Linked DNA regions of Homo sapiens: region 1 is linked to region 2. Evidence: fine-mapped QTL for protein levels in blood plasma. Region 2 holds a variant in brackets. A gene starts in the other region. All regions are shown on their forward strands.

The links. PIP is the chance, under the fine-mapping model, that this variant and not a neighbour inherited with it causes the effect. Protein levels are from antibody-based Olink assays in UK Biobank. Linkage for the fine-mapping came from a reference panel and not from the study's own genotypes, which makes the PIPs less certain.
Region 1: DNAJC6 starts here. The variant in region 2 is fine-mapped to the plasma level of the DNAJC6 protein (UK Biobank, PIP above 0.99).

The regions. Positions count from the first base shown.
Region 1 is chr1:65,302,128-65,318,210 of GRCh38, forward strand. It overlaps DNAJC6 (DnaJ heat shock protein family (Hsp40) member C6), which reads left to right and starts at 7,416. Exons shown (of 19, transcript NM_001256864.2): 1 at 7,416-7,811. The coding sequence starts at 7,619. DNAJC6-AS1 (DNAJC6 antisense RNA 1) reads right to left here and starts at 7,107. Exons shown (of 3, transcript XR_007066155.1): 1 at 6,368-7,107; 2 at 4,306-4,458. LOC112268227 (a long non-coding RNA gene) reads left to right here and starts at 9,117. Exons shown (of 2, transcript XR_002958317.2): 1 at 9,117-14,021. RefSeq lists a silencer at 1,468-1,646.
Region 2 is chr19:6,091,228-6,107,310 of GRCh38, forward strand. The region is part of intron 1 of RFX2 (regulatory factor X2); the gene reads right to left. Among named protein-coding and RNA genes, the nearest start is that of RFX2, 11 kb to the right of the region's middle. RefSeq lists an enhancer at 1,345-2,050. The variant A/G (reference allele first, on the strand shown) is at 9,195.

The DNA of each region.
Region 1 (16,083 bases), not on the chromosome of region 2:
AATATATATAATACGTATTATATATATTTATTATATATTATATTATACATTTATATATTATGTTAATATATACATTAATATATTATATCAATATAATATACTATTATATTGATATATTAATATATAATATTATATATATTATATATTATATAATATAATATATAATATATATAATATATATGTTACAGTATAACATTGCTGTGGTTTGAATATCCCCTCCACAACTCATGTTGAAATTTAATTGCCATTCTGACAGTAATAGGTGGTACCATTAACAGGTGATTAGGCCATAAGGGGTCCACCCTCATGAATGGATTAATGCCATTACTATGGGAGTGCACTCTTGATTAAAGGGAGTTTGCCTCCCCCTTAACCCCCTTGCTGTCTCTTCCTTTCTTTTTTTTTTTTTTTTTTTTTTTGAGACGGAGTCTCGCTCTGTCGCCCAGGCCGGACTGCGGACTGCAGTGGCGCAATCTCGGCTCACTGCAAGCTCCGCTTCCCGGGTTCACGCCATTCTCCTGCCTCAGCCTCCCGAGTAGCTGGGACTACAGGCGCCCGCCACCGCGCCCGGCTAATTTTTTGTATTTTTAGTAGAGACGGGGTTTCACCTTGTTAGCCAGGATGGTCTCGATCTCCTGACCTCATGATCCACCCGCCTCGGCCTCCCAAAGTGCTGGGATTACAGGCGTGAGCCACCGCGCCCGGCCTGTCTCTTCCTTTCTTATCCTCTCTTGCCTTCCTGCCTTCTATCATGGGATGATGCAGCACGAAGGCCCTCACCAGATGTAGGCTCCTTGATCTTGGACTTTCTGGCCCCAGAAACTGTAAGAAATAAATCTCTGCTCTTTGTGAATTACCCAGTCTCCTGTATTCTATTATAGCAGCACAAAATGAACTAAGGCAAACGTTGTTATACTATGAGCATGTCCTTGAAAAGTCAAGGATAAGTTAAATGTTAGCAAATGGAAATGTGTTTTTTAAGTGAGCTCATTAAAGAAACCAGAGCGATTTTTTCTGTAAACTAAAGATGGCTTCCAAAATAAAGTTTTTTGGTATTTTCATTCAATTAGCAGATACTTACTGAACACCTATTACTTGGCAGGCACTGTGCTAGACCTCATAAAACATGATGGGTGTTGTCTTCACCTGCCAGAGTTGCTCAAAATACGTGAATAATAAATTGACAAATATATTCTCAGACTAATATACGGTCAAATAATAACATTTGTTACATCGGTTATAAAAGTTTTTTAACATATTAACATTTAAGAAATCTTGGGGTATCTTAAGATTGATAGTATGTCATACTTTCTTTAGTAGCATATTTTTCTTATGTTGTGACTTAAAATGGATGGTTTCTTAGATTTGATAACATGCAGTATTTAGGGCTTTAGTGTTTATTATGTGCTTCCATGCGCCTCATTTGATTCTCTCTTCTTTTTTTTTTTTGAGACGGAGTCTCCCTCTGTCACCCAGGCTGGAGTGCAGTGGCATGATCTCGGCTCACTGCAACCTCTGCCTCCCAGGTTCAAGTGATTCTCTTGCCTCAGCCTCCTGAGTAGCTGGAGCTACAGGCACGTGGCACCATGCCCAGCTAATTTTTTGTTTGTTTGTTTGTTTGTTTTTTAGTAGAGACGGGGTTTCACCATGTTGGCCAGGCTGGTCTCGAACTCCCGACCTCAGGTGATCTGCCTGCCTCAGCCTCCCAAAGTGCAATTTCCATAAGTTGCCCAAACCATTTTCCACTGACCACACTTAGTAAGGCAGGTCAGATCTAAGGAATGACCTAAATGTCCTTCAGCTTTCACTTTGATCAGTGGAATTGCCTCTTTAGGCTGCCTCAGTGGCCAAAGCATGATCAGAAAGATGGAGGTTTGAATCCTAACTGATTGTTGTGTAACCCTGGGCCAGTTACTTAACCTCTCCAAGTCTGCCTCAAAATAAGAATAAAATCTTTAGATTTAAGGTAGGTAAGGCACCTGGCAAATGATAAATAATCAATGGCAGTTATTTTGTTACTATTAGAGCATCAAGGAAACACAGGTTTCATGATATTGGGTTATCTTAAAGAAAAAAAAAAAGCCCTACCTGGGAAATTTGTCCTATTTTCTGGAAGACCCAGAACCCCATCAAACACCAAGAACAGATATCCCCACTCCTAAGAAACATTATAGGAATAGTTCAGATTTTCTTCTGTTAAATGTCATCCATCAGCTCACCCGATTTTTTCCAGCAGACCTCCTCTTCTATCTTGTGTGTTGCTTTATATGTCGCTCTTGACAGCTGCTACTATTTATGCATGCATTTCTATAGCAAAACCTTGATTAACTGGGACACAGCAAACTGTAGCACTTAAATGACTATGGTTTTCCCCTATGGACATCATTTGGAGGAGAGAGGGAAGTGACAACTAAAGTTTTGAGAACTGAAGAGAATCATGTAATTCCACATCTTCGATTTTACTGCTGAGAGAAGGAGAATGGATCAAGGCCACCCTGCTGATTAAGAGCAGAGTCAGGAGAGGATTCTCGGTCTATTTTGCTTTCTTCTGGACTGTGGCCTAAAGATGTGTCTTTTGGCATCTCTCTTGGGGGTATTTCTCCTTAAGGTTTTGCCACTACACTGCAGGTCTCAAACTCAAATGCCTGCAAGGGCTAACTGGTAATAGGAATGAGTGGAGGAGGCTGAGTATTCTACATTGGGAAGTAGTAGTGAACTATGGTCCTCAGACTGGAGCCTATATACCCTCTGTAAAGGCATCTAAACTAAAATGTTTTTCATTTTAAGAAGTACAGGACCGACAAAACACATCTGGGAGTCAGAGATGGCTTGATGTTCCCCAGTTGAAGTGCCTTGCACTATGTATATCTATAGGCCTTATTCAATAAGGAGATAATCTGGATTATGGCCCTCAGGCACATTGCCAAAGTAAGTTTCAATACTGTGCATTGATTTATGTTTGTTAAAACAGAAAATTGAAGAGACGCATTTTAGAAACCTGATCATAATATATTTTGTAACAGAGAGAACAGAGTAGAAGCTCTGGCTTCATTTACTGTCTGCTTAGCCAAAACTCTTTGTGGTCCAATTAGCCAAATGAATTCAGATGTCACAGTGTATAGGACATTCATAATTGGGAACACTAGGACCTCTTAGTACCAGAGATTGTCCCATAACATAGACATTCAAAAACATTTATAATCAGGACACACAGTGAGAAATACATTTATATCATTACTGAGCAGAAACATACACACACTCATACATATCACACAAACCCAAAACAATATTTTAAGAAACAATATCTTACTGCGTTCCAAACTCTGATGTTTTCCAACCTATTTCATTTTTATGAAAATACTTTATAATTTACTCATCGGCTACAGCATATAGTTTAAATCACTGGACTAGGTAATGCCATGACATTTTTGTTTATTCATTAATTCAGTAGATATTTACTCAATATCTAATGAGAGCGAGGTGCTCTTTGGAGTGTCATGGGGGACACAAACATGAACAAAACATGGATTTTTGCCCTCAAAGAGTCCAAATCCAATAGGAAATACATACACGTGAATATTTAAAAACTCAGGGCAAAACAATCAGTTCACATTTGACAAACTGCTTTTATGTTATCATAGTCATAATGATAACAAATCTCTTAGGTAAGCTGGGCAGATTTAAACTTAATTTTACAGATGGGAAGTTGCATTTTTGAAAAAGTGACATTTTAAAAAGAAGTGGAATGATAGTAATAATAGATAGCATATGTTAAGCACTTATTATATGTTAGGAACTAATTTACTTCTTACTATAACCTTATTATGATGGCATTACTATAATCCTCACTTTACAGAGGAGAAAAATGAGGCAGAGAGGTTAAGTAACTTGCCCAAAGTCATAGAGCCAGGAGTCATTGGAACTAAGAATCAATCATAGGCAACTTCAATTTTTTTTTTTTTTTTTTTGAGACAGAGTCTCGCTTTGTTGGCTCACTGCAAGCTCCACCTCCTGGGTTCAAGCGATTCTCCTGCCTCAGCCTCCTGAGTAGCTGGGACTACAGGTGCCTGCCACCACGCCTGGTTATTTTTTTGGATTTTTAGTAGATACAGGGTTTCACCGTGTTAGCCAGGATGGTCTCAATCTCCTGACCTCGTGATCCGCCCACCTCAGCCTCCCAAAGTGCCAGGACCACAGGTGTGAGCCACCACACCTGGCTGGCAACTTCAATTTTAATCAATGTATTATATTCTCTGGAAATGAAAATCACAGATCAAAATCCTACATAGGTCATGGCATACATACCTTGATCTCTTAGCCCACCCCAAAAGTGATGTGGCATCTGCTGTGACAGGATAGCATTTGGAATGAGGTGTGTATGAAGGGGATGGGGTGGAATAGAGCCTGGTTCCTCAGTATTCCTCAGTGTCACTAATCTTCATCAAGTTAATAAAGCACCTGAAGGCAGCAAGAGAAAAGACAAAGGGAATGATTGCTGTCCCCAGAAGAGGGCATCTTATCCTTTGCCGTTGTCTCATGTATGATGTAGTATTTTTGAGATAAGTTATGAAGTAGTCTTGAGTTTGGAAAACCAAGAGTTAGGCTGTAAATGTTCACCTTGTGTTTGACCAGTGCCACCTCCCTTAAGCCCAAATTCTCATTCAAAGTTACAAAGACAATTTTCCATTAGGATATCCCTGGAAAAAATAATATTTAGCCTTTATTGAGCTTTTCCCATTTGAAAAACTAAGACTGCCAGGCGCTGAGCTTAAAGCTGCACCCAAGACAGACCAATAATGGTAATAGAGAACAATTGTTAAGTACTACTCTCTCTCTCAATCTGTTTCTCTCTCTCTCTCTCTCTCTCTCTCTCTCTCTCTCTCTCTCTCTCTATATATATATATATATATATATGTTAGGTACTAATCTAATTCTTCTATATAATGATGGTACTCATATTATGCTTGTTTTATAGAGTAGAACAGTGAGATATTCATTGATAAGTATATGAATTTGATCTTTAGCACAGTAAAGAAAATTTTAATGTTGAAATTGGTGCATATCCAAATTTAGGCCCAAGCCCTAGTTTTTAGGCTGTTGTAAATTAACCTAGTTATTGTATTTTCCTGCCTTAATATGCTTCTTATATCTTCAATTTTATAGGATTATTAATAGTTATCCTGATTGACTTTATTTATATTAAGTATAAAGATAAAATTCTTATAGCCCATTCAGATTTTTCTTTACACTTGCAAACTCCAGAGATAGATATTGAAAAATACAAAGGCATATGTCTCATCTATAATTTCTTTCAGCAATATGTCTGCAAGTTGAGCAAAAATAACTGAAAGTGCTCTTTTTGAAAATAATAATTTTCACTTTTCAAAAATGATCCTGTATTTATTTATTTATTTTTTGAGACAGGGTCTCAGTCTGTCACTGAGGCTGGTTCTAAATTCTATTAATCCAATGATTATAGTCCAGCATTTGTCAGGGCACATGATGAACACTAGGTATTTACTGTCCCTGTGTGTCTGTAATGAATTAAAAGAAAAAGTACAGAGAAAGATTATTTAAGATGTTATGGGAAAAGATTTACTAGACTTCACAGAATTATTACTTTAGTCAAGTAACTAAAATAATTCAATCTGACAGATTTGGAAAATTGAAAGTATAAAAATTTGTTTTAAAATTTTTATTGCAGTTTTTCCTGCCACCATTCAGATTGTTTGATCTTGTTATAAATGAGCATTAACTCTGATTTGCAATTCAGGTCACACCATACCTCATCAAAGAATGCAGTTGGGAAAGCAACTGGCCAGGAAGTTTAGGTTTCCCCAGAAGGACTGGAAGGATTTAGAAAACATTTCTTTGGACTTCTTCTGGTTGATGCTCTTCCTACAAGAATCTGTGTTTGGGTGATCCTTGTACAGGAAAATGTCTCTTAGTCCAATTTATTTTATGTAGAACTGTGTAGAGCTAGAGCTTCCCGGAAACTTTCTGAGACCCAAATCATCTGGACTGAAGTCTCTTAGATGCTATTGTTTGATTTTGTGTCCTTAGGTGATTGATATAAGGACAGCAAGAGAAAACCATGTAAGATGAGAAGAAAGCAAAGCTGGCTTTGTGTATGGGCTCAAGTACATTTTACATGCACGTACTTTTTTCCTGTTTTGGTGAGGAAACTCTGTCAAATGACTCTTGACGGGCGCCTCACTTAGTCCCTCCAAGTTTTAGTAGAGAAAATGATAATTTTTAACCAAGACTTACTTGATCTTGACCTAAGATGATGAGAATGAGCAATCCTTCTGAAATCTTATTATTTTAGGTGAAAATAAACATTCGATAATTACATTTTAAGACTTACCAGAGTTTATCCAGGTTTTGTTCAGATCCAGAACTTATACAATGTCGGAGTCTTCTTTTAAGAATACACGATGACAGATACAAAATTAGGTACACAGCTTAATTAACTTCATGATAAATTCTCTTCTGATTATGAGTTACTGCTTTCTTTGGCCAGAATTGTGAAAGAAAAATAAGGCGTGAGGCTAGAGGATGGGGAAAAAAAATCCTTGTCTATCTTGCTTCCCAAGCAGGCCTTCAAGCTAGCTAACTGAAACAGTCTTTTCTCCAGGTCCTAAGGTAAATGGTGGCGGATCTGAAAATGCGTCGGACTTAACCTTGCCCTTCTCCCCAGTTTATTCGCTCAACAAAGAGTTCTAAACAGTCACATCTGCTCTCTAGGCAGAACGGACGCTGCCTCCTAGTATTAGAATACCCAACTCTTTGATATCTCCCTTAGGGATCATCCCTATTCTGGAGAATGTGCAAAATATTGCTCTTCCTTTATATCCTAGCATAGATATATTCTGGCACTTAACATGCATTCTTTTTCTGTTGAATTGAGTTACAAGTCAGTTCTCTAGGACGGTTACCGTCCTGGTGGCTTTGGCGGAATCTTCCGGTGAAAATAGGCTAAGTTGCATGAAATGGGTGTGTCTGGATTTTACCACAAGACCCCTGGTCCTCAAAGCTTCGCAGGCCGAGATACCTCGCCCCTTTCTTCTCTGTCACACGCGTGCGAACACACCCTCCCAACCCACGTCGTAGTAGTCCCCTCCCCCGACCACCCCGCCCCGTTTCCCTTCAACCCCCCTCCTCACGAACCTCCCCTCCCTTCCTACCTCCCTTTCCTTCCCTCCCCGCGGGCCAGCGGCTTTGGCGCTGCCCTGCTGCGCGGCGGGGCGACGCGGCGACACCTATAGGATTGCTTCCGGGCACTCCTCAGCCAGGAGGTGCTGGCCTGGGGCCCGGAGCTCGGCAGGGCCGGGCGGCTCCGCGGCGTTGGCCCAGAGGACGCGCGCCCCCGCCCGGCCGCGTCTCCTTCCCTCCCTCCCTCCTCCCGGCGCCCCGAGCCGAGCTCAGCCCAGGGCGGCGGCTTCGCCTCGCCCGGCGAAGCTTCTCTCCGGTGGCCGCTCCTTCTTTTCCCTCCTCTTTGCGTCATGTCGGGCACTTAATTTTTTTTTTTTTTTAATTCCTTCTTCAGCCCTTTCCACCTTCCATCTCCCTTTTCGCTTCCCAGGTTGATTATTTTCTCTTTTCTCCGGGCTTGCCCATGAGCCTCCTCGGGAGCTACCGGAAAAAGACCAGCAACGATGGTTATGAATCTTTGCAGCTGGTGGACAGTAACGGGGACTTAAGTGCGGGAAGCGGCGGGGTTGGCGGCAAGCAGAGAGTGAACGCCGGGGCAGCGGCGCGGAGTCCCGCCCGACAGCCTCCGGACCGCGCCAGCACCATGGACAGCTCAGGTAGCGCTGCCCGAGGGGAGTGCAGCGCTGAGCCCCGCGCGGCCTCCGGAGCCTCCCAGTCGCCCGGCCCGAGGCCCCCCCGTGGTCCCCCAGCCCCGGTTTGCGAGAGAGCCGGGCTGGAGGCGAAGGCTTCTAATACCACCTGGGTGTCGAGTCTCTAATTTCTCTCATCCAGGGAGCTACGAAACGTTAGATCAGTCCTGAGGCCCAGAGACTGTAGCGAGCTCCTCCTAATCTCTCTAGACTGCTGAATACGGCAGCTGGGGGCGGGGAGGGGGAGGGAAGGAGGAGGGGAGGGGTGGAGAAGAGAGGGGAGCGGGTGGGGCGAAGAACGGCTTGGGAGGAGGGCTGGGAGAGGCAGCTGCTTTCACTGCCCAGCTGGATGAGGGGGAGAGGTGAAGGAGCATGTGCGTTGATTGTTTTTGCAGCATGCAGACGGTATTTATTCCAATTGTTATTCTTGCAATGCTGATGCTATTTGCAATTCTGTAAAGCTCTGCCACATCTTAACTCAGCCGTCTGCTAGGGTTAATGTTACCTTTCTCCTGCAGTTTTTAACCTGGGATCTAGAGCTCTTTTACACAGCTTTTACTGTTTGCACAATGAAATTTATTTCATGTGTTGGCTTTGATCTTGTTTGTCCTTTTGCTTGAGTGTACAGATTTCATAAACCTTTACATGTAGGGACAAGGAAATTCCTCTAAACTTTGTATCGGGGCTTGCAACTGTCTTTTATAAAAGGTTTGGCAAGTTAGAGTCCTCTCTTGGAACTGCTGTTGGCATTTGCGATTTCAATAGCAAAACAGTCATTTAATATATCCATGTTGGACTAGGAGTATTATTATAGCTATTTGCTTACTTCTGCAGGGAACCAGGTTCGGAGAATTGTTTACAGAGATATTTATAATTGAAGTCCTCAGTGGTTGGTTCTACACTGGTAACTTTAATACTGGACAACTGAGGATTCCAGAGGAAAGATTCATATGGGGTCGTTTGAACAGTAATGAAATCAAACTGAATTTAAATGCCCTGCTTTGCAAACAAATGCTTGTTTATTTTAATTGTGTAATGGCTGTCCTTGGGCTATTATTTTCTATTTTCCTTGTCCCAAAGTGGGATGAAATATTGTCCACAGATGCTCAAATGTCCTGGGCTGAAAACAAATTCTACTCATTGAAGCTCTTATTGAAGTTAACCAAGATATTGATGGGACATTCTCTTAGACCATTTTAAATAAAACTAAAATGATCCCCAAGGGATTGATGGTTTCAGGACTGTTTTTTTTTTTTTTTTTTTTTTTTTTTGAGGCGGAGTCTCACTCTGTTGCCCGGGCTGGAGTGCAGGGATGCGAACTCGGCGGACTGCAAACTCCGTTTCCCGGGTTCAAGCGATTCTCCTGCCTCAGCCTCCTGAGTAGCTGGGATTACAGGCACCTGTCACCATGCCCGGCTAATTTTTGTACTTTTAGTAGAGACGGGGTTTTGCCATGTTGGCCGGGCTGGTCTTGAACTCCTGACCTCAGGTGATCTGCCTGCCTCGGCCTCCCAAAGTGCTGGGATTACAGGCATGAGCCACCGCGCCCAGGCAGGACTTTTTTATTGATGTTGTATGTGGTTATTCAATGTATGTTTTTTCAAATCTGTGATATATCAAAGTGTAATCCATCTTTTGACTGGATGTAATCTCCTTTAAATCTTAAAAAGATTCATGTTCTCTGAATGATGCCACCATAATAATGTTTACATGTAGTGAGCATGTAAACAATTGAAATGAAAACAAACATATTCCAAATGAGTGTGAAGGAGCCTCACTTCAGGAAAATGAAAGAAATATGAAATACATATGTTTTCCTTTTTCATAGGGATTATTATTTTAAGAGTTGAAATTGGTTTTTGAAATATGTTACATTGTAGAATAAGTTCAACATACATTTTCTGAGCCCAGCTATGTGCCAAGCACTGTGAGGGAACACAGTAGTGAATGAGATCCTTCTGGCCTCTAGGGGACTCTCAGTGGGGGCAGTAACTATAACACAGAGCAGCCTATGGTAAGTCCTGGATTTTTGAGGATTGTCTTTTTCACTAAATCAGACTTTTTTAATAGGTGGAGAGAAGAATAATGGATTGCTTTAATAATCTGTTGTGATGGGAAAGTGTTTCATTAAGAATATTGTTATCTCTAAAGTGCTATTGCCAGGAGTTGATTCTTAAACTTGATCAAAGTGGTGTTGTGTGAAGAGGCTGCAGGGATTCCTTTTCTCCTCCCCTTATCCATCATTCACTCCTATATTTTATTAGGGGAATATTGTGGCTTTGTTGTAGAAGTACAGGGTATCTTACAATGATTTTGATGCATATTTTCAACTGAGAATGATTTGTTTGGTTTGAATGAAGGATTGGACTCTGAGAGTAGGATTCTTTTACTAGTACAACTATATGTCTTGCCTAATTATAGTTCTTTCTTCTAAGATCCTCAAAGTGTGGCCTGTGCAGTGTAAATATATCCATTTGTTTAGTATATCTAATTAAGTTCATGGATCATTTCTAAAGTGGCAGTAATCTGCCCATTTATTCAACTGATTGTACTGTGACATGCTGGATAGGATCAGTGGTTTATGGGACTTTTGCTCTGATAGAAATATTAATGAGTGGAAAAAATATGTTGACATCTCGCTACATGATTTAAAGCTTAGTCTTAATAATACCTTAAACTTGTAAGACTGTTTATAATAGAACACTTGGACAATTCTCTTATTTCATTTCCCCAGAATTTTATTAAATAGGTTGGGGAAGCAGCATGTGTCTGTGCTTGGAGACTTGGGATCAAACCTCTGCATTATTGTTACTCGCTGAAAAACCTAGTAACCTTTTTCTTTTCTTTTCTAGACAGATAGCTCTGTCACCCAGGCTGGAGTGCAGTGGTGCGATCTCAGCTCATTGCAACCTCCACCTCCCGGGTTCAGACAATTCTTGTGTTTCAGCCCCTCAAGTAGCTGGGATTACAGGCGTGCACCACCACACCCGGCTAATTTTTGTATTTTTAGTAGAGACGGGCTCTTGCCATGTTGGCCAGGCTGGTCTCGGACTCCTGGTCTCAAGTGATCTGCCCGCCTTGACATCCCAAAGTGCTGTGATTACAGGGTCTTGCTCCATTGCCCAGGCTGGAGTGCAGTGGTGTGATCATGGCTCACTGCAGTCTGGACCTCCTGGGCTCAAATGACCCTCCTGCCTCAGCCTCTTGAGTAGCTGGGACTACAGGTATGAACCACCATGCCTGGCTAATTTTTTTTTTTTTTTTCTTTGTAGAGATGGGGTTTTTTGCCATGTTGCCCAGGCTGGTCTCAAACTCCTGGGCTCAAGCGATCTGACCACCTCGGCCTCCCTCCCAAAGTGCTCGGATTACAGACATGAACCACCATGCTTGGCCTGTTCCCATTTATAAAAGTGGAATCATAAGAGCTGTTCTTACCACAGAGCTTTAGTTGAGGCTGAAAACAATATAAAAATACATTTGCAGTTTTTCTTTACTTTGTATCTTGCCCTTTCAATTTATCATATGAAGAAACTTATTCTCAGAGGTGGTAGGAGACCTATCAAAGGTAGAATAGATAATGACAGCCAGACTTAGGTCTTCTGACTCAAAGGTTTGAGTTTTTCCCCATTGAACTAAACTTTTGGGTAGACACAATATCAACTGATTGTTGAAATGGAAACATTTTTATCTACTTTGATTTCCCCCCTGTTTTTAGATAAAAGAGGGGTACATGTTCAGAGGAATGTAATGGCTTTCTAAGTCAACAGCCTCTCAAGTGGTAGATACCAGAGCAGTCTCCTAGCCAGATGTGACTTCCAGAGCTCTCTGCCTTCCCTGGCTCACTTTCTCTTCATTCAAATTATTCTCTAGAAAAGGTTGTCATTTAAAGGTCATCCTGTCATATCTCAAAGGCACTGCACTATCCCAATGCCGAAAACCCCCTATTTCTCTTGTGTGCACCCCACTTTTCAGGGAAAGTAGAACCACAAAAGTAGAACTTTCAATATTGAGCTGCTAAAGTGTTCCAATATTGGGCTTAATTTACCAAGTTCATAATGACAAACTGAAAAAGAGTAGTCCAATTAAAATCTGGAAACAGATATTAATACTTTTTAAAGAATAAGTATAATGATAGGTAAGGATTTCTCTTTTGATTCTCACTTTTTAGGCTTTGTTCTATATATTTAAATATATAGAAATTCACATATATAAATAAACAAAATATTGTATATATTAAAAAAAAAGAATAAGGATAATGAACAATGCTAAAATACCATGTAGTGTGAGTCTGGTTGGAAACAAAAATTACCTTTAACAAATTCTATTTTAGTTAGTGTTTAAACACAGCATCCACATTTTGAACCAGGTTTCAACATTATGAGATACGTGTTTGGATAATTGTATACTTCATGGAAGTATAATAAACATATATGTACTAATAATCCTTTCTTAAGAATATCTGCCCATTGAAGGGTCTTGTAGGTTGGAGGCAAAGTTTATTTATATAACTTATTTTTTATTTTTTTTTTATTTTTTGAGACGGAGTCTCACTCTGTTGCCCAGGCTGGAGTGCAGTGGTGTGATCCCGGCTCACTGCAACCTCTTCCTCCTAGTTCAAGCAATTCCCCTGCCTCAGCCTCCTGAGTAACTGGGATTACAGGCACCCACCACCAGCCAGGCTAATTTTTGTACTTTTAGAAAAGACGGAGTTTCGCCATGTTGGCCAGGTTGGTCTTGGACTCCTGACCTCAGGTGATCCGCCTGCCTCAGCCTCCCAAAGTGCTGGGATTACAGGCGTGAGCCACTGTGCCCAGCCAATTTATATAACTTATTTAATGTGTGGTTATAGTTTGGATGTTTCTGGATAATCGTTTAAAGATGCACCAGTTACTGGATTACAGAATAAGATACGTCAATTTAAGTTTCAAATTTCAAATGCTTGGAGACTGCCAGATTTCATAGATTTGGAAGGGGAATCCCTGGAACCAAATCTCGGAAAGTTGGCCAGGTAGCCAATGGTGGACACTTTCTGTGATGGAGCTTTAGCTACTGGGGCAGTGTCTTTGAACTGTTCTCATCAGTGCAGAGTTCTTTTTATTTGGGCAAAATCAGCCTTTCTGTTCTCTAGATACAAATTATGTCTAATCCTTCTTTCACATGGTAGCCCTTAGACAACAGATTTTTGAGAACAGGTACTAATTCTCTCTTAGTCTTAATTTTCCTCTTTTCTAGGCCAATCAAACCTAAGTTCCACATGCTTTTTTCTCTATATAAAATGATTTCCATATAATTATCCTAAGCTTTGAGAATAATGTTTTTTTTTTTTATTATTTTGCACAACAGGGGTTTTCACCAATTTTTATTATAAAAGGTTAAAAAAGAATTAAAGATTACAGAAAGGAATAAAATGAGAAAAGTTAAGTATTCTCTCCCCTCCCTGATCATTTAGGTCCTTGCCTCAGAGATAACTTCTACTAAAAGTTTCTGGAAGGACTTTCAACGTACAACATGAGTGTGTGTAAATATATATGCTTTACACATATATGTATATGTATGTGTATACCATTAGAATTATAATAAAATACAAATTCAAAGTTTAACCATGTTCATATATGTACATTGTTCAATAATGCTTAATGACAAAAATAGCTACAATTTAATTATTATAATTCAGGGATTATGCTAAACACTGCATATGGTGTCACATTTAACCCTCATAAGAATCCTATAAGGTAAATGATAGTAACGGTCATCTTATAGTTGAATAAACTAAGGCACAGAGAGGTTAAGTTGCGTGAGGTTACACAGGCTCTACTTATTCTATATTGAGTAAAATGCCATAGAGAAATGCCCATACGATTGCAAATGAAGAATTTAGTGGTGAATTTTTTTATTTGCTTCTTTCTCTGAGGCAAGGAAAAATAGGAGTGATTGAGAGAACCAAAATGAGTTCAGTTGTTTTTTAATCCCATGAAAGTACAAATATGTTTTCTTTACTTAAATATAAAGAATTTAAAAACACTGGAAATGAAAACAGCAAAAACAGCATTGAATAAAGCTGATTAAGACTTGATACGGCACTGAGAGAACAATACAATTGATGAAGCATTATATATTTTTGGAAAAATATATTGCAAATGAAAATGGATCCCCACTGCTCTTAGGATAAAATCCAAGGTATTCTTAACAGGACATCAGAAGCCCTTTGTGGCACCTGTGAAAGCTGGCCCAACAAAACTTGTTGTCGCTCCACTGGTAGATCCCCTCCCCAGCCTGCACCTCCATCTTTATGTTTTTGCATACACTGTTCTCTCAACTCAGGCCAACTTATCCCATAGACCCCTGGACACCCACTTTTCCAGGTTATCTCCTATTCATTCTTCAGGGTTTAGCTCAGATATTCCTTAATCGCAGGCTGCATGCAATGGTCATTCTCCATGCTCCTCAGCAGCCTTTACTTCCGTATCACAGCTCTCATCACATTGAGTTGTGACATGCTGCCTGGCCTGTCTCTCCCTCTAGTCTGTAAGTAAAGTTCAGAGCAAGGCTGGGTCTTATTTGCCTTTGTAGTCTTGTCATTGCTTGGCATTTATTAGGAGCCTGATAAATACTTGTTGGATGCACAAAAGCATGAATGGATTTTGAATTTTTAAAAGGGCATTTATAATGAAATATGCCCATCCAAATCTAAAAATAAGCATACAGCTAGGTTTTAACAGAAATGAGGCCAGGTTTGAGAGAAATGTAACTGTTGGTCGAAAGCTAGACCAATTCAGTAATGAGCATTTTTTCATATGTAAAGACACTGGAAGTGAAAGAAAGATGGTTAATATATAGCCTAGATCCTTAACAGTTTTCTAATATAGACATGTCAAGAAAGAATTAGCTTACCAAAAGATTGTGCTTTTTCGACCAACAAATACAATCTACTGTATGATTCATCATAAAGGTCACTTTTTTTTTTTTAGCCAAAAAAGGAAACTCAAAATGTATACAATTTTTTTAATGAACTGACAATAGATGACTTTCATCTATAGATCTGTGTATTTCTTAATCGGTGTCATTAAGTTTTAATCTTAGCCATTTTCAGGTTTAATATTAAAAGTTCTTTGTATCATCTTTGGCCGTCTGCAGTTGTATATAAGCTTTGTGCTAACTTAACTGCTTTTTTAAATCTGTGCTCACCATCTTGAACTCCTTTTGGAAAAAAGCTATGTTTGAGATGGATGAAGAATGCTGGAGTTTAGATTGTGCATTTCCTTGTTGCGAAAGGTGTAACTCTGAAAAAACTAAATTACAGTTATTGTATATTAAACAGCTATTCCTGAAATTTACTTGGAAGCTTTTGAAAGAGTAGCTCAGTATCTGAGGAGAAGTTCTTCACGGTCCAAGAAATTAGGAAGTTCCATAACATGTGCCAAGGGATCTGGCAATTTCTACTACCTTTAGTTGCTTTATCCCACATGTCACAGGCCATAGTCTAGATGCAAAAAATATCTTTTTATTTCAATAACACATCAGAACATAGTTTTAAAAGTGCTAGAGATAGAAACTTTAAATTAAAATTAAAATGCGTGTAGTATTAACAGCGCAAATGTCACCACCAAGGAAGCAACCAGATGAGCCAATGCCTCCTGTGCAGTGTTAAGTTTGCATGTGCAGAAAATTACTGTTGTTGTATTGTGGTGTAGTACTCTACCTGGTAGCTGGCAAGTGTGTTTGGCATACATTGTAAGCCACTTCCTAATTTTAGAAGTGTTATGCTGTGAAAAAAGTGCAATTAGAATTGGAGATATTTGACAAAAGTCAGGGTGAATAAATAGTATAATAATAGTTATATAAAGTGCAATAGGGGTGCAGAAGAAGGAGCCATAATTTTAACCAGGAAGACTAAAGAAGGCCACAGTGGAAGTTGATATTTGAGCCAGAAATCTGTAGGAAAAGAAAGAAAGAAAACCCGTTTTGGGCTTTGGGCTAATGCACAGTGGCATCATAGTGCATGGTATGTTTAGAGAATTGCATTTAGGCTTGAAGCTGGAGCCCAGATGGGTGGGAGGTGCTATAGCAGATGGTGCTGGGAAGATAAGACCCAGGTCAGGGTGAGTCTGCTTGAGGAGGTTGGACTTTATTCTGCAGGCAGTGGGAGGCCAGTGAAGATTTGGAGATGGGGTGAGGTAGGGCTGACTTATCTACTAGGCACAGTGTCTAGAAACCACAATAATTTTAGGGTCCACAAAAA
Region 2 (16,083 bases):
ATGCCTGTAAACCCAGCACTTTGGGAGGCTGAGGCTGGGGATTGCTTGAATCCCGGAGTTTGAGACCAGCCTGGGCAACATAGTGAGACCTTGTCTCTACAAAAAATTAGCCAGGCATGGTGGCGTGCACCTATAGTCCCAGCCCAGAAGGTGGAGGCTGCAATAAGCCATGATCGCACCACCCCACTGCAGCCTGGGCGACAGAGCAAGACCCTATCTTCAAAAAAAAAAAAAAGGTGAATTGTATGTGAATTTTATCACAATTGAAAAAAGAAGATGACGCTGAGTGCTGGCAAATGCCAGCCACGAAGAGAAACAATGATATAGAGACTAAAAGCATTCCTGCATTCCTCACCTCAGGAGAAGTAAAATGCAATATTCTCATAATTATGAGAAAATTAGGCACGAGAACGTACAAAGTACAATTCGAACATTTTCAGAAATAAACTTCAGTAACAAACAACAATATCTGTTGGACACGATCCCTAACAGACTGTTTGTGAAAATCTCGAGTGATGGGAGAGAAGTAGGTGTGGGGAAATCTGTTTCAGGAACTCTGAGTCTAAGCCGCAAAACGTGTTTACATGAGACCCATCAACAGAATAAGCCGAGGGACTGAATGAGGAATGAACTGCGGGAGGTAGGCATTTTACAATCAGGAATCTGAAATGAGACTATGTCCCAGTTTGGGAGTCAGAGAATTGTAGACTTTCTGGGCCAAGCCCTCAGTGAACATTAACCCTGGAGAATAAAGGAGCAGGGAGTTTCTAGAAGATTCTACATCCGGGAGTGGGGGGAGGAAAACTGTGGAGGTTGGTGTCTCAGAAATCTTAAAGGATGTTAAAAAAGAAAACCATGATTCACTGAATTTAAAATAGGAGAAAAGCTCAGATTAAGAATGAATAACTTTATCGAGGATTAGGTCACAGGAATTCTGGTTTTAAATTGTTTACGTAGAGTTAAAGAGAAAGAATTTGTACCATAAGAAGAAGCCAACTATAACAGCAAGGAAGACATTCAAGAACAGGATCTAGTGGCTGCACAACTGAGCTCCCTCCTCGGGCTGGAGAGAGCAGGGGCTCAAGTCCCTAAACCCGGGCCATGGCAGCAGGGGGTCAATGACCCAAGAAAGCAGCTTGGGACGGAGGGTGGCCCCGCAGGCTGCATGCTGGGCTGCTGGAAGGAAGGTCTTCCGCTGAGAAGGCAGAAGAACGAGTGCTCTGCTGGAGAATAAAGGTAGCAGAGTTTACAGCCACGCGTCCAGAGGGAATTCAGAGGGGCGGGGCAGGCCGTTGCTAGGCTCGAGTCCGCGCAGGAGTCAAGGGCGACAAGCATGAGCTTGTGGCTGCGCAAACCAGCCCAGCAGCCAGGCCTCCCCAAGAGGCACACGCGAGCATGGGCGCAGCTCACGGTGACAGAATGAGGCTGAGTCAGTCACACGTGGACTGTAGGATAGGCAGAGCTAAGCTGACAGGGAACACGTTCCAGAGGAGGGGCCGGGGGAGGGAGAGGCTGCCAGGGGGTTTGAGCACCTCCTAAGTGGCCCACAGAACACTGTGGGTGAGTTCAGTGTGCATTCTCCTGGAGGGTGGGGACACAAGTTTTCACGAGGCTGTCAAAGGGTCCGGGACCTGCTACTCTGAAATGTTAAGAAGCTAAAGAGTTTGTGTTGGCCTGAGAGGCAAGGAGTGGGACGGGGACTTAGGGCAACGGACACGCATGTGGTAAAAAAAAGGCCCTGTGGTGTCGGGGAGGCGAGGAGGTGGCCCCGGTCCTGCTGGAGGCGGCGTAGTTTCAGGAGAGGACAAAAGTGGAAAGTCACCTTTATAGTAGGAATGGAGCGCAGATGTAAGTGGCGGCAAGCTAACGCCAAGGGGAGGAAGTCCATCAGGCTCAGCAATTTCCCTGCCGCGAGTGGGCAAACATCTCACACGTGTACACAAATATATTTGGACACGGGTGCTTACTGCAGCATTGGCGGTAAAGTGGAAGGTATAACCAAAATGCCTATAAATAAATAACTAAGGCCGGGTGCGGTGGTTCATGCCTGCAGTCCTAGCACTTTGAGAGGTTGAGTGGGGCAGATTGCCTGAGCTCAGGAGTTCGAGGCCAGCCTGGCCAACATGGTGAAACCCCGTCTCTACTAAAATACAAAAAATTTGCCGGGCGTGGTGGCACATGCCTGTAATCCCAGCTACTCTGGAGGCTGAGGCACGAGAATTGCTTGAACCCGGGAGGCAGAGGTTGCAGTGAGCCGGGATTGTGCCACTGCACTCCAGCCTGGGCGACAGAGCAAGACTCTGTCTCAAAAAAATAAAATAAAATAGAATAAAAGGCTAAGTAAGTACTTAGGACAGGAGTGGAATATCAGACCATTAGTAGAAAGAATGAAGCACAAACACAGTAGAAAGTGATAAGGAAAGATACAGGCTAAATATTAGGTAAAAGAGCAGGTGGCAGAAAAGTGAGAAAAATAAGATCTCTTTTTTGAAGAAGAAAAAAAAAACACACAAAAAAACCCTATTAGTCCAGCCATGAAAAGGAATGAAGCACCAACACGTGGTACAAGGTGGATGAACCTTGAGAACATCATGCTAAAAACAGCCAGTCACAAAAGGCTACTTACTATATGATTCCATTTTCATGAAGTTTCCAGAACAGGCAAATCCACAAAGACAGAAAGTGGCTTAGTGGCTGCCAGGGGCTGGGGAAGGGAGGTGGGGAGTGACTGCTTAATGGGGACAGGGTGTCTTTTTGGGGTGATGACTCTGGAATTAGATGGTGGTGATGGTTGCATAACCTTGTGAATATACTGAAAGCCACTAAATTGTACACATTAAGAGCCTGAATTCTGCGGCATGTGAATTACATCCCAATGCAAAAAACACTAAAGAATTCGTATGTATGTTTTACAGGCCTGTGAAATATCTGAAACCATCCACACCAAACTTTTCTTAGTGGTGGGAGGGGCAGAGGAGAGAGGAAGAAGCAGCCAGAGGCTCTTTTTTTCTTTTTTACAATTTGGATTTTTTTTTAATGATGAAAACGTAAGACTTTTATAATGTAAAAGAGAAGCAGTCAGAATTATGGGGACTACACACAGGATCCCAAAGTCCTGAAATGGTCACTAGGGAATTCTGGGGACAGATCACTCAGGTGGCTTGGAGGGCACCACCTGTGTTTCAAAGTCCAGTGATGATCACTTTAGAAAATGGACAACGCTGAGGTCAGGTGGACCCACGCTACTCAGACTTTGTCAGTGACCTTATGTTTTCACGGCTATGAAGTATCTGCACGCCAGTAAGTAGCCAATATAGTGGTCACCTTTTAAAAGGAAGAGTTGACTTAAAACTTGTGCCTGCTTTGACTTTAACACCTTTACCTGTGCAGTCGGTATAGAAGCCAGGGCCACACGTGGCTGCTGAGCACCTGAAATGGGGCTGGTCCGAACTAACATTTCTAAGACTTAGCACACAAAAAAGAATGTGAAATATCTCGACAATAATTTTTCATATAGGTTATATATTGAAATGAATATTTTCAATACAGTTCATTGGATGAAATGTATTATTAAATTACTTTCACTTGTCTCTTTTTACTTTTTAAAATGCAGCTACTAGGCCAGGTGCAGTGGCTCATGCCTGTAATCCTAGCCCTTTGGGAGGCTGAGGCGGGTGGATCACGAGGTCAGGAGATTGAGACCATCCTGGCTAACATGGTGAAACCCCGTCTCTACTAAAAATACAAAAAATTAGCCAGGCATGGTCCCAGTTACTCGGGAGGCTGAGGCAGGAGAATGGTGTGAACCCAGGAGGCAGAGCTTGCAGTGAGCCGAGATCGCGCCACCGCACTCCAGCCTGGGCGACAGAGCAAGACTCCATCTCAAATAAATAAATAAATAAAAACAAATAAATAAAATGCGGCTACTAGAAAATTGCAAATTTCACACGTGGCTTGTGTTATGTTTCTTTATTGGCCGGTAATGATCTAGAAGACACTTAGAATAAATCATCTCAGGATAAGTTTAAGAATTCACAAATATTTTAAGAGATTCTATTTTACTAGAAAGTAAGCAAAATGATTTTTAGATGTAGATGTGATCTCTATCTAGTAAGAACTCATGTAATTTTGACAAATAATTACTCTATTTGGTGTCCCACAAATACAGTTAGACATGGCCTCTATCCTCAAGGGTTTTGCATGGATGGGGTGAGAAAGAAAAGGAGACATACACAGATAATTCCTTACGTGGCAAAAGGTAACAGGTGCAGACTCCAGATGGAACAGGGTACCATAAACAATGGGGCAGGGGAGTCTGGGCAGCATCCCGTCCTGGACCCTGCTGGAGGTGGGGTAGGGAAAATCAGGCAGAGGTGTAAACAAGGGGAGGGTGTGTGGGGCAGGGAAGGGGTCAAGAGACCAAGCTGGGTGGAGCTCGGGGAATAAAGGGGGAAATAGGATGGACCACTTGGAGAAAGTCTACGAATGCGAGTCAGAGCCCCTGGACTGCACCACAGGGGCAGAGGTCAGGAAACTACCGCCCACCACCCAAATCTGGCCCAGCCGCTAGCCTGTTTGTGTATGGCCCATGAGCTAAGAATGGCTTTTACATTTTGAAGTGGTTAGAAAAAAATCAAAATCAAAATATTCTGTGATGCATGAAAATTACATGAAATTCACATTTCAGCATCCATAAATAAAGTTTGATTGGCACACGGCCAGGCCCAAGCTCTCACATGTTGTCTACATCTGCTTTCAAGCTCCATCGGGAGAGCTGAGTAGTTGAGATAGTGACCATCTGGGCCTCAAAAGCTAAAACATTTACTATCTAGCCCTTTATAGAGAATGTTTGCTGATCCCCACTTCCTTGGAATACTAAAACATCCTGTGGGCTTCCTTTGCTCAAATAAAATAAAGGCACTGCTCAAATAAAATAATGGCACTTGCGCCAATCTGCAGAAATATTTATTGAATAGGTTCCTCGAATTTAAAACATTTTCCCTACCAATATTTCTTAAACCCTTGGTAGATATTTCCTCTTATTTGCTAATGAAGAGTAGCCAACAACAAAACAAAAACTAATGTGATACCCTGCAGGTTTCACATTATTGGGAAGCCCTGTACCAGTCTGTCTCACCCAATCAACAGCAGTTTTAAAGAATGTATGCTCATAGTTGATACTGCGCACACTCTCGTTTTTGTTTTTTGTTTTGTTTTGTTTTGTTTTGTTTTGTTTTGAGATGGAGTCTTGCTCTGTCTCCCAGGCTGGAGTGCAGTGGCGCGATCTCGGCTCACTGCAAGCTCCGCCCCCCGGGTTCATGCCATTCTCCTGCCTCAGCCTCCCGAGTAGCTGGGACTACAGGCGCCCACCACCATGCCCGACTAATTTTTTATATTTTTAGTAGAGACGGGGTTTCACCATGTTAGCCAGGATGGTCTCGATCTCCTGACCTCGTGATCCGCCCACCTTGGCCTCCCAAAGTGCTGGGATTACAGGCGTAAGGCACTGCACCTGGCCTCGTTTCTTATAATTTAATCATGTTGCATTAATAAAATATGAGTTCACATGATTTAATTCAACGCACTCCTGGTATTCCATGATGTTCCACCATATCATGTGGTCTCCCCCTCCCAGGGTCCCCCACCATCTTAAGGCCATTGTTGAGGGCAGCTGGAAGCACCAGATTTGGAAGAACACAGAACAAGAGGACCAGCACCATACCCTTCATCTAAGGGAAGAAATCGGAAGTTTACTTTAACAGTCCTGCATGAGAGGGTCTGAACTGGAACAGTATAATCAGAAACAGAAAGGGAAGAATCAATACAAGACCAGTTTGGGTGGTGGGACCTATAGGAAGTAGTGAGTAGAAAAGAGGGCAGTGGGTTAGTGGGGGTGAAGCAGAGTGGGGAGAGGATGAGATGACCCCTAGCCTTCAACACTGGGCAACAGAGGAGACAGCTCCATCTACAGCCTTGGACTAGACCCTGGGGAGGAAGAACGAGCGGTCCAGGCTACTCGGGTTTCTGGCAAGAGCAGGGTGCCCAGGCTGGGACCCACACATCTCTCTTTCACTTGGGCCTTGCCTTTCTTCCTAGACCCTGGGCCCAACCCTTTCTGAAGCAACAAAGAGGGGAAGCAACTAAGGAGAAAGGCAAATTGCATGGAGTTTAGCGGCAGGAAAGATTCCTCAGCTACCTGCCCAAAGGACTGAGACATGCATTAAGATATCTTTACCCTTCTGAGGGCGTGATCATCATTCCAATTCCACCGGGCTTTTACAAGGATTAGAAGTAATACATGTAATACACCAGGCACATAGTATGTACCCATGGGTAACATCATGGCAACCCTTTATTATTATTAATTATTATTATTATTTTAGAGACAGGTCTCACCCTCTCACCCAGGCTGGAGTGCAGTGGTGCAAACACGGCTCAAGTAACTCGTGGGCTCAAGTAATCCTTCCACCTCAGCCTCCTGAGTAGCTGGGACTACAAGTGTGCACCACCAGGCCCAGCTAATTAATTTTTTGTGTGTGGAGACAGAGTCTTGTTATGTTGCCCAGGCTGGTCTTGAATTCCTGGCCTCAAGCTATCCTCCTACCTCAGCCTCCCAAAGTGTTGGGATTACAGGCATGAGCCACTGTGCCAGGTTCCCTTTATTTTTAAAACATAACCTTGGTGATCTAACAGGCACTACTTTTAAAGTCTGGCTACTCCTTACTGAGGGCTGCTTTTTTTGCCCATTTGCTTGATTCTGTGGCCAACGTAACACTCTCTGCTGTTCTTGAAAAACCCTCTTTCTTCTTTTCTTATACAAGAATCAAAAATGTTATCACACAGCATTGAACATTCTTATATAGATCAGAGAAGGTGAATGACTCGATAAATGACGTCATACATGATTTTATCTATGAGCTTTGTAACCAGACAACTAAATGTATAATTTATTCCAGAGTGTCTATTTGGAAACAATAAAAGAACTTTGCTACCCCTGAAGTTTATCCCAGCCTCAGTGGTTTATATTTTGACTTGCATTAAAAACGACCTCTCCTCCTGATGAGAACTGTTACTGGTCTAACTAGAAATGTGGGGCTACATTGCGGGAACTTGAGAAATGGGGGCTCTCCCTGCACCGAGACAGCGCAGTGGGTGCTTGGCTGATAATAACACCTGTAAAGAGGCCGCAAGATAGAGACTTCAGTGAGATGCGTTTTCGTCCAAGTTCGTCAGAGCCACCTGGGCAATGATCTTGAGTCAGTGTCTCTTTGGTGGTTTTAGCACATTCCAGGACCACCAATACTACCATTTACTATTTTTCTTTAACACTCAGCTCTCAAGTTTTGAAGTCTGTTCTTCGTTAAACGTGAGAGGTCAGGAGTGTTATAGAGGGGTTAAAGATACCTTAACACCCACGAGAGACTTTCTCCTCAGCCTACTGGGAAGGCCTAAAAAAGAACTGGAAAAAAAAAAGAGGATTCTGCTTTGGCAGATCCAGTGGTAGCAGATCCACGTGTTGGGAAATGCTTTTGAGCTGGGGAACAAAGCTGGGGAAATAGATCTTTAAGAAAGGGAGCCAAGGTTAGAAATATTTGCCTACAAAGTGAGTAAATTTTATGTAACTCTGTTAATTCTCTGTAACTGCTTCCTCTGCCACTGCTCGTGGCCCAGGGCTGACTTTTTGGGGTGACCCCAAATGTATGCAGCTTTCAAATCTTTCACAAACTGCTTGAACCACAAAAAAAAAAAAAAAAAAAAAAAAAAAAGCTAAGGGTTAAAATACAACTTGCCCTATAACCTTGCTTTCCCTCAGAGCAAAAAGGAGAATTCATTGGTTCAACAAATGCTGAGTGCCACATTTCGTTGCTGAAACAATTCTAATAGACATAACAGCTCTATATTTGTTCCAAATTGACTTTTTAACAGAGTGAAATCTTTGAAAAGTTCCAAAGCAAAACAAGAGACAAATCAAGCCACTGCAATGGGCTGGGACATAGAATTCGGGATTTCATATTCTCCACTGTGTACTCAGCTCCTAGCAATGAGACTCAGCAGCAGCTCTGTTATAAAACCCCTCCCCGCTCCCCGAACTTTCTGGAAAAAGAACTTCATTTGCAATTTTGGCTGGGTAAAAAGGGAAATTAATTAACAGTAGGGGTCTTTGATTAAAATTTCTTTTGAAATTTGGTAAAGGAAAAGTACATATTGAAAGAGCTGGAATGTTAATTGAGATCAAATCGAAAACATGGAGTTTGAAGGTTATTGGATCTCAGGCACGGGCTGCGTGATTTTTTTTTTTTTAAGAACTGAAGGTTTACCATCTTGATGTAGGCCTTGCCGTCCTGAAGAGCACTCGGGCTCATGTGTTTCATTCACTCACATGTTAAATATGAAGCCCTATGTACAACATAGCCTGTGGGAACTGTGGCAGGGGTAGCTGTCTCCATCCTCCAGAACCTTGTCACAATCAAGAATAGGAAATGAGACGCACAAATCACTACCACCTGTCGAAGTGGCCTTGCAGTGCTAAATCTAAGTGCTGAGGCAATTTGCCTGCAGTCCTTGCCACTTCTTGTTGATTAGTCCAGCAGCCCCCAGCTGGGAGGCAATTCTGTTCACCCTCACTCCCACCTCAGGACATCTGGCAATGTCTGGAAACAGTTGGTTGTCACCACTTGGGGAAAGGGGAGTGTGCTTTTGGCAGGTAGAGGCCTGGGAGGCTGCTCCACATCCTACAGTGCACAGAACAGTCTCCCCAACCAAGAATAATCTGGCCCCAAATGTCAATAGTGCCAGGGTAGAGACTCAGCTCTAGTTTATATTTTCCAACTTAGCTCCTCAATGAAAATCTCAAGTTTCCATGGCAAGAGGGGATTAAAGAAGGGTCTTGAGGGAAGAGTAGGATTTTCTTCAGTAGAAATGACATTCCAGAGAAGGGATAAGAAAGTACAAGACCCGTTTAAAGTATGGCAAGCTCATTTGGAGTAGTGAAAGGGAGGCAACGAAAAGGGAGATGGGGCTGGACTGAAGGAAGCCTTGAATGTGTGGTTACAACAAAGGGGAGGGGACAGTTTGTCCGTTTGGCTAACAAAAGTAGTAAGAAAGTGCCCTTCCGTTCCTCCTGACATAGCTCAAAGAGACATGACAAGGCGGTTGGGAGAAGAGGAAGAGATCAGTAAGAATCCAGAGACGAC[A/G]GAGCCCAAGGTCTGTGCAAAGAGCCGCAGGGAGACAATACAGGAAGTGATTAGGCAGGAGGCTTTGGCGGCGACCGGAAGGCTGGAGAATTATTGCCTCTGTAACAGGAGAGGAGGGCTACTTCCAGTAAGAAGGACCAAGACTCCAGAGGCCACTGGCACTAGAATAAGAAGAGAAGTAGGCTCATGCAGGCCCACGTAAATCGGAGGAAGGTGGAAGTTTCCTGACCGGAAGTCTAGGTGGGAGGCGCCATGTTGCGGCCCAGCCGCTGCTACTGACTCCACCATCCGGCAGTTCGTGAAATTAAATAACTGCAAATTGATGAGTCTTTTCTTTTGCATGCTGAGTCTCTCCAATGAGCACACTCATCAGTGTGAACCAAGGCTGGCAATTAATTGAATTATATTGATTTAATTGAATTAATTAATTGAATTATATTGATTTAATTGAATTAATTAATTGAATTAATTAATCATATCCATTTCCAGAAGTAATTTTTACTCACCCGCGTCTGTCATTTTAAAGGTCTGCAGTAAAAATACCAGGATTTACACAAAAGATTTGCTCCTGAGACATATCCTGCTTTTAACTTAGGCTCTGAATATCAGTTGCCAATGGTTTCTAACAATTTTAAATTTGTCTAGTGCCTTCTCCCCTCTCAACTGTCCACATGACGATATATTAATACACGTAAATGCTTAACTAATTATAAGCTCCTCAGATGTTTGATATTTCAGGCCCACAAATATTTTCTAAAGAAATGGATGGAGACCCCAGAGAGCTCCTCACTGAAGTCCCTAGTAGGGTGAATTCTTCAAGAAAACGAATAATTCCTTTTAAAATCAGAAGCACATCTTTTAGTCTGTTTTCAGTGGGTCTGGAATTCCAAATATATTTTTTCTCAAGGCAGGCTACATCTGTCTGTATGTATTCTGAGAAGGACAGGAGAGGTGGGAAAAAGGCCTTCGTGTTATTTTCTTTGGGTTTCCACTGGCCTGGGTGGAGCCCGCATACATTTTTGTGGGCTGGTAATTTTTTTGGAAACTGCTTCTAAGGCCTTTCCCCACAGATCACCTTTTGGACAGAAATGTATCCTTGGAAACATGGCACAGTTTCTAAAAGATAAACAGTTTGCATTTTTAAAAAAGTATAATTAAGTGCTGTTGCAGCTTTAGGAATGGACTTCTATATCATTGGTATAATTTCAACAGTTTTCCAGGAGACAGGCGTTCATGAGTCAAGCCTTCTGCCTTTCTGTGGGGACCCAATCCTTTTTCACATGGGACTTGGGCAAGTCTAATCTTTCTGGTTGCCATTGGATCTCACTCTTCATGGTGCTCAGTTCTTGAAGTTATTTCCTCCTTTGCCTTTTGAGCCTCTGTCCAGGTTCTCCCTCTACCTAAGAGTCCCTTTGAGATCTCTGCTTAGCATGGTTCACAATAGCTGTAAGGTGGAAACCACCCAAGTGTTCATCCATGGATGAATGGGGAAACACAATGTGGCATATCCATGCAATGGAATATTCTTTAGCCTTAAAAAGGAAGGAAATTCTGATGCATGCTACAGCATGGATAAGCCTTGAAGACATTGTGCTAAGTGAAATAATCCAGTCACGGAAACACAAATACTCTATGATTCCACTTATATAGTGTATAGTCATCACATTCACGGGGACATGAAAACATGGGCCGCCCAGTCCTGAAAACATGGCCACACCCCTCTCCCCCATCTGCTGCCTGCAGAACACTATTCTCAAGATGCAGTTCAGATCCACATCCTCTTTTCAGACCTTTCCTCAGCTCCAGGGACAGCTGGCCTCCCCACTTTGTCTGCCCTCTGTGCCCTGTAGAAACATCTAGCAAAGCCTATTTGATACTGACTCCTCTTCCTTGTTGGTCTTTGGTCTTTGTAACTGGATAGGATAGCACTTTACTCAAAATAGGCAATGAATAAATGAATGAAGGATGAATGAATGAAGATTGTATGAATGAATGATGAACAAATGTCAGGAGTCTGAAAAGCAGGTCTTCCGGTAAATGACTGGACACCTTTGATCTGACAGGTACCGGCTGATGTGAACTCTACCAATGATCCAGTTTATACTTCGAATAGCATCCAAACTTTGCCCATGGCCTCCAAGGCCCTGCAGGTTGCCCCTGCCTCTTCTGCCTCTCCTTGCTTTGCTCGCCAGGCATCAGCCACACAACTGCAGGACCTTTGTACCTGCTGCCCCCTTCCTGGAAGGCTCTTCCTTCTGAACCCCACAGCGCTGGTTCCCTCTCCTCATTTCAGTCTCAGCTCAACTGTCACCTCCTTAAAAACTGCTGGACGCCAGGAGCCCAGTCCGCATCACACGGCCTTGCTTTTTTGTCTCTACTGTTCAATTTTTCAGCCAAGTTCAAATACAAGAAGCCTCTTATGGCCAGGCACAGTGGCTCACATCTATAATCTCAGCTACTTGAGAGGCTGAGGCAGGAGGATTGCTTGAGCCCAGGAGTTTGAGGCTGCACTCCAGCCTGGACAAGAGAGCGAGACTTCATCTCGTTTTTTATTATGAATTACCCATCCCCCAGTCTCAGACATATACACAAACACATGCACACACGTCCAAAAAAACTGCAGAGATCTTAGTAGAAATAGGCTTACCATATATAGCACATCTGGGCTTCATTATGTAATAAATGACAAATAATCACTATATTGGACCATTACATGTAAGTTCTACATATTTTTAATGGCTTTTCAGCTTTTTCTCCACTTTGAAACATGGACTGTAGCAGGTGTAAATGGACTGACAGCATTTAAAATCTATCTGCTTTATGTATCATCTACAGGCAGTGGCAAGTCAACTGTACTTTTTAGAAAGTCATGGAATTCACAAACATTAAAAATAAGAATAAGGAATTGCCAGGGCATACAACAGGGTTTTCAAACATGCAAGACCTATGTATCATAAAACAGGAATGCACTTTCAGGAAAAAACAACTGAGGTGCAGCAAGGCCAGGCCGTCTGCTCCTAAGGGCCCAACTCAAGTCCTGGCACGAAGACCAGGCCAGTCCCCGGCTCCAAGTGGCTCATTTCCAGACTCTGACTGTGTTGGCATCCAAGAGCCAGTGATAACAGAGAAGGGAAACCAGTCTTAAAATGTTCTCATCTGTAGAGCTGGCCACTCCCCAAAACTCATCATAAATGTGATGTTTGGGGAGTCATTTCAGAGGGACCCATGCCACAACCAAGATGTAGGACTCCAACAACTTTTCGTGCTGTTTTTGTTCTTACGAAGCACTTATGTTTGCAGAGGGACATATTAGTACCCATGAGTTTCTAGGTTAATTTAAGGGAATTTCCTACCCTAAAACAGACAGCATGAGGCCGACCACTCAGTCAAGCAAGATGTATGTACTAAACGCCTCCTTAGCATTTGGTCCTGGTCAGGAAACCACAGTAAAAAACTGATCATCCCAGGCCACTTACTACTTATTTGCTTCATCCTAATAATAATAATAATAACAACAGTTACTTTTTTCTGAGCACCTATTAGATGCCAGCCCCTGTGCTAAATAGCTTATAGAAATTATTTCTAATATAGCAACCACACGAGCTATTATTATCGATTTCACAGATGTCAAACCTTGCCCCAGAGCCACTAAGCTAATAAACGGTGGCACCACAATTTAACTCCTTCTCTGCTGTGCCCCAAAGCCCTGGTCTGCAACACCCAGCACTATGACCTGCAACTTTTCCTTTCCTCTTTCCCCTGCCCCATTCATCCAGATTCATCCAATTTGGGCTCTACTGACTCAGAGATGGCAATATGAACTTAAGGTACCTATGAGCAATTCTTAATTTAAAAAAAATTTTTTTGGCCGGGTGCGGTGGTTCACGCCTGTAATCCCAGCACTTTGGGAGGCTGAGGTGGGCGGATCATGAGGTCAGGAGATCGAGACCATCCTGGCTAACACGGTGAAACCCCGTCTCTACTAAAAATACAAAAAATTAGCCAGTTGTGGTGGTGGATGCCTGTAGTCCCAGCTACTCGGGAGGCTGAGGCAGGAGAATGGCCTGAACCTGGGAGGTGGAGCTTGCAGTGAGCTGAGATGGTGCCACTGCACTCCAGCCTGGGCAACAGAGTGAGACTCCATCTCAAAAAAAAAAAAAAAATTTTTAAGGGCAGGGTGTCGCTATGTTGCCCAGGCTGGTCTCAAACTCCTGGGTTCAAGCGATCCTCCTGCCCTAGCCTCCCAGGTAGCTGAGATTGCAGGTGTGAGCCACCACACCCAATGCAGCTCTCAACTCTTCATTTCTACATATGCTTTCCCCATAAGTGTCAAGGAAACCATTTGTTTATTCATTTCACAAATATTTCTCAATTGCCTACTCAGCACCAAAATTCTTCTCAGCCCTGGGGATATAGAAGTTAATAAAACAGCTCATGCCTGTAATCCCAGCACTTTGGGAGGCCGAGGTGGGCAGATCATGAGGTCAGGAGATCGAGACCATCTTGGCCAGCATGGTGAAACCCTGTCTCTACTAAAAATACAACAATTAGCTGAGCGTTGTGGCACGTGCCTGTAATCCCAGCTACTCAGGAGGCTGAGGCAGAAAAATTGCTTGAACCTGGGTGTCAGAGGTTGCAGTGAGCCGAGATTGCACCACTACACTCCAGCCTGGTGACAGAGTGAGACTCCGTCTCACAAAAAAAAAAAAAAAAGAAGTTAATAAAACAGAAGTTCCTGCCCTTACTGAGCTGACATTCTAACAAGAGGACAGTGATAATACAATAAATACGTATAACTTATGGTGTGTTATATAGGAATAAATGCTAAGGAGACAGAGAAAGCAGGGAAGGAGGCTGAGAGCACCCATTCTCAAGTGGGTGGCCTGGTGACATCTGAGAAAAGGCCTGAAGAAAGTCGGAGAGCCAGCCCTCCAAATACCTGGGCAAAGAGCTTTCCAGGCAGAGCTGGAATGAGCTTCCAGAGGCCAGCAGGGTGGAAGTGCAGTGAGGGAAGGCATCTAGCTTGGCGATGAGGTCAAAGAGGTATTAGGCTTGGCGGGGAGTGGAGTTAGGGGTGACTTTGGCTTTTGCTGCAGATGAGATGGGAGCCATCGGAGGGTTTCGAGCTGAGGGGTATGAAGTAGAACTTAACATGACGCCGCCTCTCCCAGGGTTAACAGGCCCCGTCTGGCTGCTGGGCTGAGAGACTGCCGAGCACCAGTGGTGGAATCATCCGGGCTAGATGCTGGTGGCTGGGACCAGAGGGGCTGGCAGTGGAGGTGGCGAGGCATGGTCAGGTTCTGGGGAACTACTGAAGGTGGAGTCAACAGGATTTGCTGATGGCTTGGGAGAGAGGAGTCAAGGACAGTCCTGAGGTTTGGCCTGAGTAATGGGAAGAAGTGAGTTGATATGTACCAACGAGTTTGGGGGGTGCTTTGGGAGGAGTAGATCTGGGGGGACTATGACAGGCTCAGCTTGGCCACCTTAAGTTTAAGGTGCCTGTCAGAATCCACCTGGATGTACCCAGCAGGCAGCTGGATAGATGTTTTCTGCAGAGAAGAGCTTAGAATCCTAAGCCAGTCCAGAGCTTCCCAGGCTCCAGTTCCCTATAGGCCTGTTAGGGCCTCTCTCTGGACCTTTTGCCACTCCTCCTTCACCTACCCTTATCCCTTTCGCCCACTTCATTCTGGGTCTTCCCCTATATTTTTTTTCCTGGGAGAATCCTTTTGCTGATCTTAGAGTTTCCAAGAAGCAAGTAGGTGGTTTTCAGTTTTTTCTCTAATTCCCAGTGTATATTCCATCGGCCTGCCCATCCATCCATCCATCCATCCATCCATCCATCCATCCAACAAAATAAGACCTTTCACTACACCAGGCATATGTCTACATGAGAGAACATGAGAACATGACCAGCAGAGGAGCTAATTGCCATTTAAATTCTAGAGACGGAGTCAAAACATCTTTTTAAAAAATACATAAGCCCACAACCCCTTACAACAATACTGAAATCCAGGAAACTCTGAAAACTGGCAATTTTTTTGTAAATTTGGCATGGACTCACTTGGTGACAAAAGCTGGCCTGAATTGACATGAAGTTACTTATGGTCCTTCTCTTCCCCACTTCGGGTGAATATTCATATAGTTCAGTTCAGAAATACGGCTGTGTTTAGTGGGAATGCCCTGGACCCATAGTTTCAGAGACAGGCCCACAGACTCGCATTCTCCTCCCCTGCAGTTTAGTGAGTGTCCTGACAAGCAAGATGAGAACTTCCCTTGGTTTTTCAAAAGTTTCCTATTTTACAAGTAAGTGGGTACCTATGGGGGTATACTGTTTAAATGTTTGTAAATATTTAAATATATTTGTTTTATATTTAACATATATTTATATTTAAATTTTATTATATTTAAATATATAAGTATATATTATATATACATGTTTTAATATTTCAATATATATTTTAAAAATATTTAAATATTTAATAAATAGATGTCAACTTTAGAAACAAATATATATTATAAGATGTGGTTCCTTCTGGCCCCAGCATTTTATGAGCAAAACAATCACTAGCTACTATAAAAATCCACAGGTGCCGGCCGGGCGCGGTGGCTCACGCCTATAATCCCAGCACTTTGGGAGGCCAAGGTGGGCGGATCACATGGTCAGGAGATCGAGACCATCCTGGCTAACACAGTGAAACCCCGTCTCTACTAAAAAATACGAAAAATTAGCCGGGCGTGGTGGCAGGCGCCTGTAGTCCCAGCTATTCGGGAGGCTGAGGCAGGAGAATGGTGTAAACCTCGGGGGTGGAGCTTGCAGTGAGCCGAGATGGTGCCACTGCACTCCAGCCTGGGAGACAGAGCAAGACTCTGTCTCAAACAAACAAACAAA